2 linked regions of the Homo sapiens genome follow. The protein of the gene in region 1 purifies or fractionates together with the protein of each later gene. This does not show direct contact. Each region holds a gene or a part of one and is shown on either strand. Other genes may lie near its edges.

Region 1 (3,500 bases):
TCATTCTTTCTTAATCCTGGTGTGTGGTGGAAGACACATTAACAATCTGGTTTTACTAACTGCATGGGGCTGACTCAGCTTTAACCAACTTACAGCCCATCAGTGAACTTTCACGGTCCTGTTCGACTTGACTGTATGCCGTTATTAGTTCAGCTGTGAGAAACAAGAACAAATTAGTTGCAGTGGTCCTGGGGTGGCTGGGAGTAGCATGCCAGGTGGCACGCCTGAGATGGGCTAGGGCGCTGTAGTGTTGATTTCAGAGTCTGGCGATGGGGGTTTGAGGTCACTGTCAGGCCCTGGGATCACCTTTGACTGTCTTCCTGGGACTGGGGGTCTTCCCGTTACCCAGTTGCTTCTGTTTTCTCAAGTCAGGCACCAGTGTGAGCATTCCCTCACCTCTGCGCTCACGCATGGAGTCCCCAGTTAAAATGGAATGGTACATGGGGACGTGTGTAAGATCTGCCTTACATTTCAGAACTGCTTTGCAGTTTGCAGAGCCTGGGCTGAGAACTGGAGCAGGCTGGAGCTGCTCTGAGCCCACACTCATCCACTGAAATAGGAGACTCAGGTGTGGCGTGTGCCTGCCTGCAGGCTCTTCTGGATAGCTTGAGCCCACCCTCCTGCCCTCTCCAGTGTCCTGATCCTTGCTGCTTTGACAGAGTTAATGTTTCCATCCTTCATCTCAGCTGCTTTGGATTTATTGTCCTGAGTAGCTTCTAAGTGTGCCTTGGCTCTTCCCCCTTTTCACTTCTTCCACTGACATTTTACAACTGACCTTAGCACTTTTTCTTAGCTGGATTCTCTATATTTCAGCCTCCTTAACTAGTCTGTGGTGGTAAGATCATGAAATTTTATAGCTCTGGAACCTTTTTTTTACATATATGATTCCCAGATCTGTATCTTCAAGCCTGCCCCATCACTCTTCCTTCAGTCCTGTCTTGTGCACTGGGACATTGCCCTGTGGCTCTTTGCTGCTCCCTGAAACTGAATCTGTTGAATATAGAGTCTCTTCTCTTGCAAATCTTTTCCCCATGCACAGCTTTGCAGGCCTCTGAAGGACTTCACTAGACCTGTCATCCCATCTAGAAGGCCAGCTTTCTTCTCTCTCTGTTCTTTAACTTTCTACTTTTTGAGTCAGGAGAGAGGCGCTAGGTGAGACCCTGGTGGATTGATGTTCCCTCTCTACTCCACCCACCTTCACATTAAGCGTTCCATTTCTGCCCATGTAGAAATTTACCGGTTCTCTCTTTATAGTCTGGGCTGCACCACTTACTTTTCCCATTAGAGCCGGCCTGCATTGGAGTGCCGAAGTGGTTGCTTCTGAGGGCTGCTAGGTGGCCTCTGACCAGGAGGAGACTAGAAAAGGGTCCTGGCCTGGGCATCTGGAGGCAGCTGTGGCCCCGACTTCCCCATCAGTGGCTCACTAGGTGAGCCTAGGCTAATGGCTGGACCTTCTCTTGCTTTGGTTGTCTTGGCAGTGGAACAGTGGGATGAACCTGTTGTTCCTTACGGTGCACTTGAAAATGCCAGAATCCCATCCTCAACCTGCTTGAGGAGCCATCTCCTAGTTGCTGCTTTTGTACACCCCCGTGGCCCAGGTGCCAGATTCTTCTTGGCATCCAATGGTGCTCCCTTTCTGCTGGGTTCCGGGCACTGTCTGCAGTACAGGTTTAGGGGCTTGCCTGCCACTGTGATGTGTGAGGCCAGGAATCTGAGGTTCACACGTGCTGAGAGCTGCAGGCATTTGTGGGGCCTGCCTGGTTGTCCCTGAGGTTTCTAGGAGAAGCAGGTGTCAGGGACTCTGGGACTAGCCAGACAGATGGAGCCTATTATATGAGGGCTACCGTGGCAAATAGGATATGGCCTTGGCCCCAGAAGAGGCACAGGCCTGTGACCTTGGGAGAGTGGGAAGGATGATTTCAAACTTGCAAATGTGTTGAAGCTCAAAAATCAGACCTAACCCAGTGAGGAAAGAGACAATCTGGCTGTTTGTCGTCGAAGTAGGACAGTGTGCAACAGGGAGAAATGACATTTGTCAGAGCCTTTCTCCTGGGGCTCTTGGTCTCTGTATGCGTGGTTGGAATTTAAACTCCACATATGTACTCTGAGTTTAGTTTCTTTAGACATGAACTTTGTTTCTTCCAAGTAGGCAGGGACTATTTGTCAAGTCTCTGCATGCCTGTTTGTCTGTGAGGTTATCCTCACCCCGTCAGTGTACGAAACAGCTGTCTCTGCAGGGAGTGTGTGTCGGCATTTTTTTTTTTTAAGGAGAACCTCTCTCCATGAGTCTGTATTTAGCTCCCTGGAGCCGTCTGATGAGTAGGTGGGGGCAGTAGTGGGCAGGTGTGGTGCAGTGTGGCCCCTTGTCGTAGTTGGCTTTATCTCCCAAATTGCTAGTGGGACAAATTTTCCTAGGAAGCGTTTCAAGGTGGAAAGGCTGAAGTGGCTCCTGAGAGAGGTTCCAGGCTGCACACTCCCTCCCCCTCTTGCTGCTTCCTGTGGCTGCGCTGCATGGTGCGTGAGGGGGATGCTTGGGGGGCTCCCTGCATCGCTGGGCTCTGGGTGCGTGATGGGGACGCTGGGGGGCTCCCTGTGTCGCTGGGCTCCGGGTGCTGGGTCCTGGCTGCAGGCTATTGGGTTGGGCTGGGCTGTCTGCACACGAGTCTGCGTTGAAAAGCCTACTCATCTGGCGTTGCTTGCTAAACAATTTTTAAAAGGTTATTTTTCTCCACCTTATTAAGATATTCGTGTATTAATACATTATATTTGGAAAATGTAAGGAGATTTGGAAAATGATTAAAAAAGGATAAAGTAGTAAACAAAATTCACCCACAGCCCAGAGGGAAGAAAAGTAACGATTCTTAAATTTTCTTTTTATGATATATATGATCCTATGTACATATATGTTGGTGTGTGTATATATATATGTGTATGCGTATATATAATGTATGTATATATACATTTATTTATACACACTCCCCCTCTGTCCCTGCTTTGTGGATTTAGCTGCATGGATAGTAATGTCTATCTAAGGGGCTATAGTCTAGAATCTAGAATATATACTATTTGCTTTTTTTTCTTTCATATCATTGAATCTACAGAGTTTGGTAACCTGCATCTTTTTCCACTTAGTGTTAGTTACATTCTGAATATTTTCCCATGCTATTAAAAAACTTGTGGAATGTGTTTTTAATGGCTGTGCAATATCTTATTGTTCAGTTGTACCATTATTTATTTAACTAGTTCCCTATTGCCAGGCATTTAGACCTGCTTTATGGGGAAAGAATCAGGACTGTGGCTTCCGTGGCCAGTGTGCGGCAGTTGCCAAACAGGTCATGTGGTCCTGGTTCCCCAGGATTCCCAAAGGCTCAATTCTCTAACCAGCTGGTGCTTTCCAGGCAGCCAGTGCCCCTTGGGCCATCAGGACCCTACAGCCTGCGAGGAATAGTTTTAGAAAGCAGATTAATTTCCTATTGTGTGTGAGTGATTTTAAATGAGTT
Region 2 (3,500 bases), on another chromosome or scaffold:
TGTACATGATTTTGGTCTAAAACCCTAGACCAGTGTTAGGGTCTAACACCCCCAGCCAGTGTTAGTTAACAACCTAACTTTAGAACTTAAAATCCCATGTAAAACACAACAAAACTGCACATGACAATAAATTTAAGCTTTTGAAATATTTGTTTCTAAGTCAATCTTTTACATAAGTTCTTAAATACTGTTACTTGTTAACATTTAAATAACATTAAATCACTACATATATTACATGACATGTCTTTCAAAATATGCACTACAGACTTTCTTTACTAATTTAGTATAGGTTAACTAGCTGTCAACACAATTTATGAGTATGGTATTGACTGCATATCTGAATATATTTTTTTATTATGAAATAAATTACATATATACCTAAAGGTTATTATTTAGATTTTACATTCTTATATACAATCTAATTCTATTGCACTTACTGTATTTCTTAATTTTACCACGCATGGTATAATCAGTATTTCTATAAATTTAAAAATAACTGGGGATAATGTAATTTTATTACATGTGATAAATGTCATGCCCAAGTTGGTACACAAGTTATATTCTCATGGCTCATCCTATATATAGTACACTTCAAATAGTGGATATATAATACTACTTGGTTCAAAGGCAAATGTAAAAACATCAAACTTAGCTAATTTTCTTTATTTCAATTACTAAAACAAAAGGCCATGTGAATCTTTCTATGACACCCCTGGAACCTCCACCCTCAATGCAGCAACTAACTATATCCACCTCCAAAGGAATAGGTGGAACACAACAGAAAGGCCACTCTCCTTGGTCTATCAAGTCCTTCCACACCCTCCATCGGACCATCTGATGCTTGTAGGGGCAATCTGGGGCTGGAAACAGTGAATTAAGACTTACTCATAATTTGTAAGACTGTAAGTTTCATAAATACAAAAAAAACCAAAAAACAGTGTGCTTTCTGGCAAAGAGTAGCTAGAAAATAATCTGCCTCCCCCAAATTCCTGTGACCCACAAGAAGCAGGCCAACTCTAATTGTAGTTTGATAGAAAAAATAAAAAATAACCCAACATATGGAAACGACACAAATTAGCTATGAAAAACTATTCCAAAGTTATATATACCATGTAGGATAAACACATTTAGATAATACGTATCTTTCTTGGTAATACACAAGCAAATACATACATGTCTATCACTGTTACTGCTGAAACACTTCACTGAAATAAATGTCAAAAGGAAGAATGATTACAGAGGAGGACCTGAAGTCACTTACTTGTAAATCTGTACTCATCCTCCCGTCTTCTTATTTCTAACTCTAAGAAAGAGGATGAAAATATTACATATTTGTTTACCTTGGGGGAACAAACAATGAGTATCCCACCTCCTGTCCTCTTTCAAATATATTTAAAGGATTTGTTCATTAACATTTTTCAGCTTTTCATATATGCTATATCTTTTCTATATTAAAACAAAACCATGCATAAAGACCGCTGTCCAGTTGCTAATATTCACATTTGTCAAATATATAATTGATATCTATTGTAAGGGTATAATAACATAAGTCTTTAATAAGAGTTTAAGCCCCTCATGCTATAAATATTATAACCATTTGCTCCTCCAGCACTTAGAATAGCTTAAATATCTATTTATTACCGAGGAAAACAAAAAAGTTTTGCTCCATAACTATCAGTGCTATTTGGACCTTATAAAAATGAAGATTTCAGGCCAGGCGCAAGAGTTCACGCCTATTAATCCCAGCACTTTGGGAGGCTGAGGCAGATGGATTGCTTGGGAGACTGAGGTGGGAGGATCACTGGAGCCTGGGAAGTTGAGGCTGCAGTGAGTCGCAATCCAGCCTGGGTGACAGAGAGAGACCTTGTCTTGAAAAAAAGAAAAAGGTTCCAAGTCATCCGTTAGTTATGACTTATACTTTCTAAAAATAACTGATACCATCACATACCTATTTTGCAGTTATGTGATGTAAGTTCAGCAAGTGAACAAGTGTCTTCATTGAAATAAATTATACATTTAGTTGCTACTAAAGGCAATCAAAGATAATGTAGACTTATAAATTTAAGTACTTAGCAGAACTCCTTCACACTGTACAGTGATAACTAAAAGAATCTAAAATGATGGAATATAGGCCTAAATCAGAAATTGGGGCTGTCTGGCCAACAAAACAAAAAATTAAATATTCATATTTACTCTATGCATAATTGTTTTTAATAAATCATTCTATTAATATACATTATTGTCCATAGTAAATTGAGATTATACAGTATACTGTATAATGACTACAGCCATGTGCCACCCCACCTGGCTAATTTTTGTATTTTTAGTAGAGACGGAGTTTCCCATGCTGGCCAGGCAGGTCTCGAACTCCTGACCTCAAGTGATCCCCCCGCCTCGGCCTCCAAACGTGCTGGGATTACCGGCATAAGCCACCATGCCAGGCCTAAGAAATAATATTTACCTTAACTGTAAGTTAATGTATTCTGTTATTTTCTATTCATATCTATCAAATTTTTAAAAAATGCTGTTGGCAAATGATTTCATAACACACTAATGGGGAATAACCTGCACTTTGAAAAATGCCACACTATATAAAAAACATTTTAAGAAGAAAGTGAGGAGTTACAAATAAAGATTACTTTTAAGCATAGCAATCTCTATTTAGGTCAATTATCAAAAACGCTACCTCTTGGTGTTAATGATGTCTGCTTCTCAACCTCTGCTTGCTGTCTCAGATTAGCTGGGATATTATTATATATTCTCTTATAATGATTGTACACAGCAACTGAAAGCACCTTCTTAGCAAATGACTGGCCAACAACATACTTGTCGAGGTAGTTATAAATCTGAAAAATGATTAGGTATGAATAATTTAATATGAGCTATTATAAGAGCACACACATTAAAAAGTTATTTACTAAGCATATTTGCTTACAGTTTTAAATCTGAACAAAGACTCTCATTAAAAACAAAATGACAATACATTATATAGCAATGATTCAGAGGCCCTGAACACTAAATGAACAAAAACACAATTCATTTGTTCTCTAGCTTAACAAAGTATCACTGTACTCTACTAGTGTTGTGCTAATTTCTATTCTATAAACAATGCTATCAATCTTTATTTTTTGATAACAAATTAAATTTAAAGTAACTTAGAATACATACACATGCCACCATGGTCTAAAAGTATCAACATTAATGTAAATCATTAAAATAAATCCATACCTGTCAATCAAATGAATAACATTCTTCACAAAGATAACATTATAAAACTACTCTTTTCAGAAACAGGCATTACATAATCAAAAGCCATTATACTATCAGTATCTATGTGTTTTAGTAAATTTAATTTTTTCTCAGACATTAACTTTAAAGCTACTCATTTATCTGAGACTCTAAAAACTGTATTCTTATTTTTTTTTATTTTCTAAAAATATATTTTTTTCTTTTTTTGATACAGGGTCTCACTGTGTCGCCAAGGCTGGTCTTGAACTCCT

What was found. Proteins that work in one complex are often made in the same cells at the same time.
Region 2: the proteins of NDEL1 (region 1) and CLPX purify together in Homo sapiens (co-immunoprecipitation; 3 studies listed by BioGRID and IntAct, with this or other methods). This does not show direct contact.

What each region holds. Positions count from the first base shown.
Region 1 is NC_000017.11:8,463,384-8,466,883, forward strand, and holds part of NDEL1 (nuclear distribution protein nudE-like 1), read left to right. Parts: intron 1-3,500. UniProt on the Homo sapiens protein: Required for organization of the cellular microtubule array and microtubule anchoring at the centrosome. May regulate microtubule organization at least in part by targeting the microtubule severing protein KATNA1 to the centrosome.
Region 2 is NC_000015.10:65,161,343-65,164,842, forward strand, and holds part of CLPX (ATP-dependent clpX-like chaperone, mitochondrial precursor), read right to left. Parts: intron 2,847-3,500; coding exon 2,687-2,846; intron 1,304-2,686; coding exon 1,262-1,303; intron 1-1,261. UniProt on the Homo sapiens protein: ATP-dependent chaperone that functions as an unfoldase.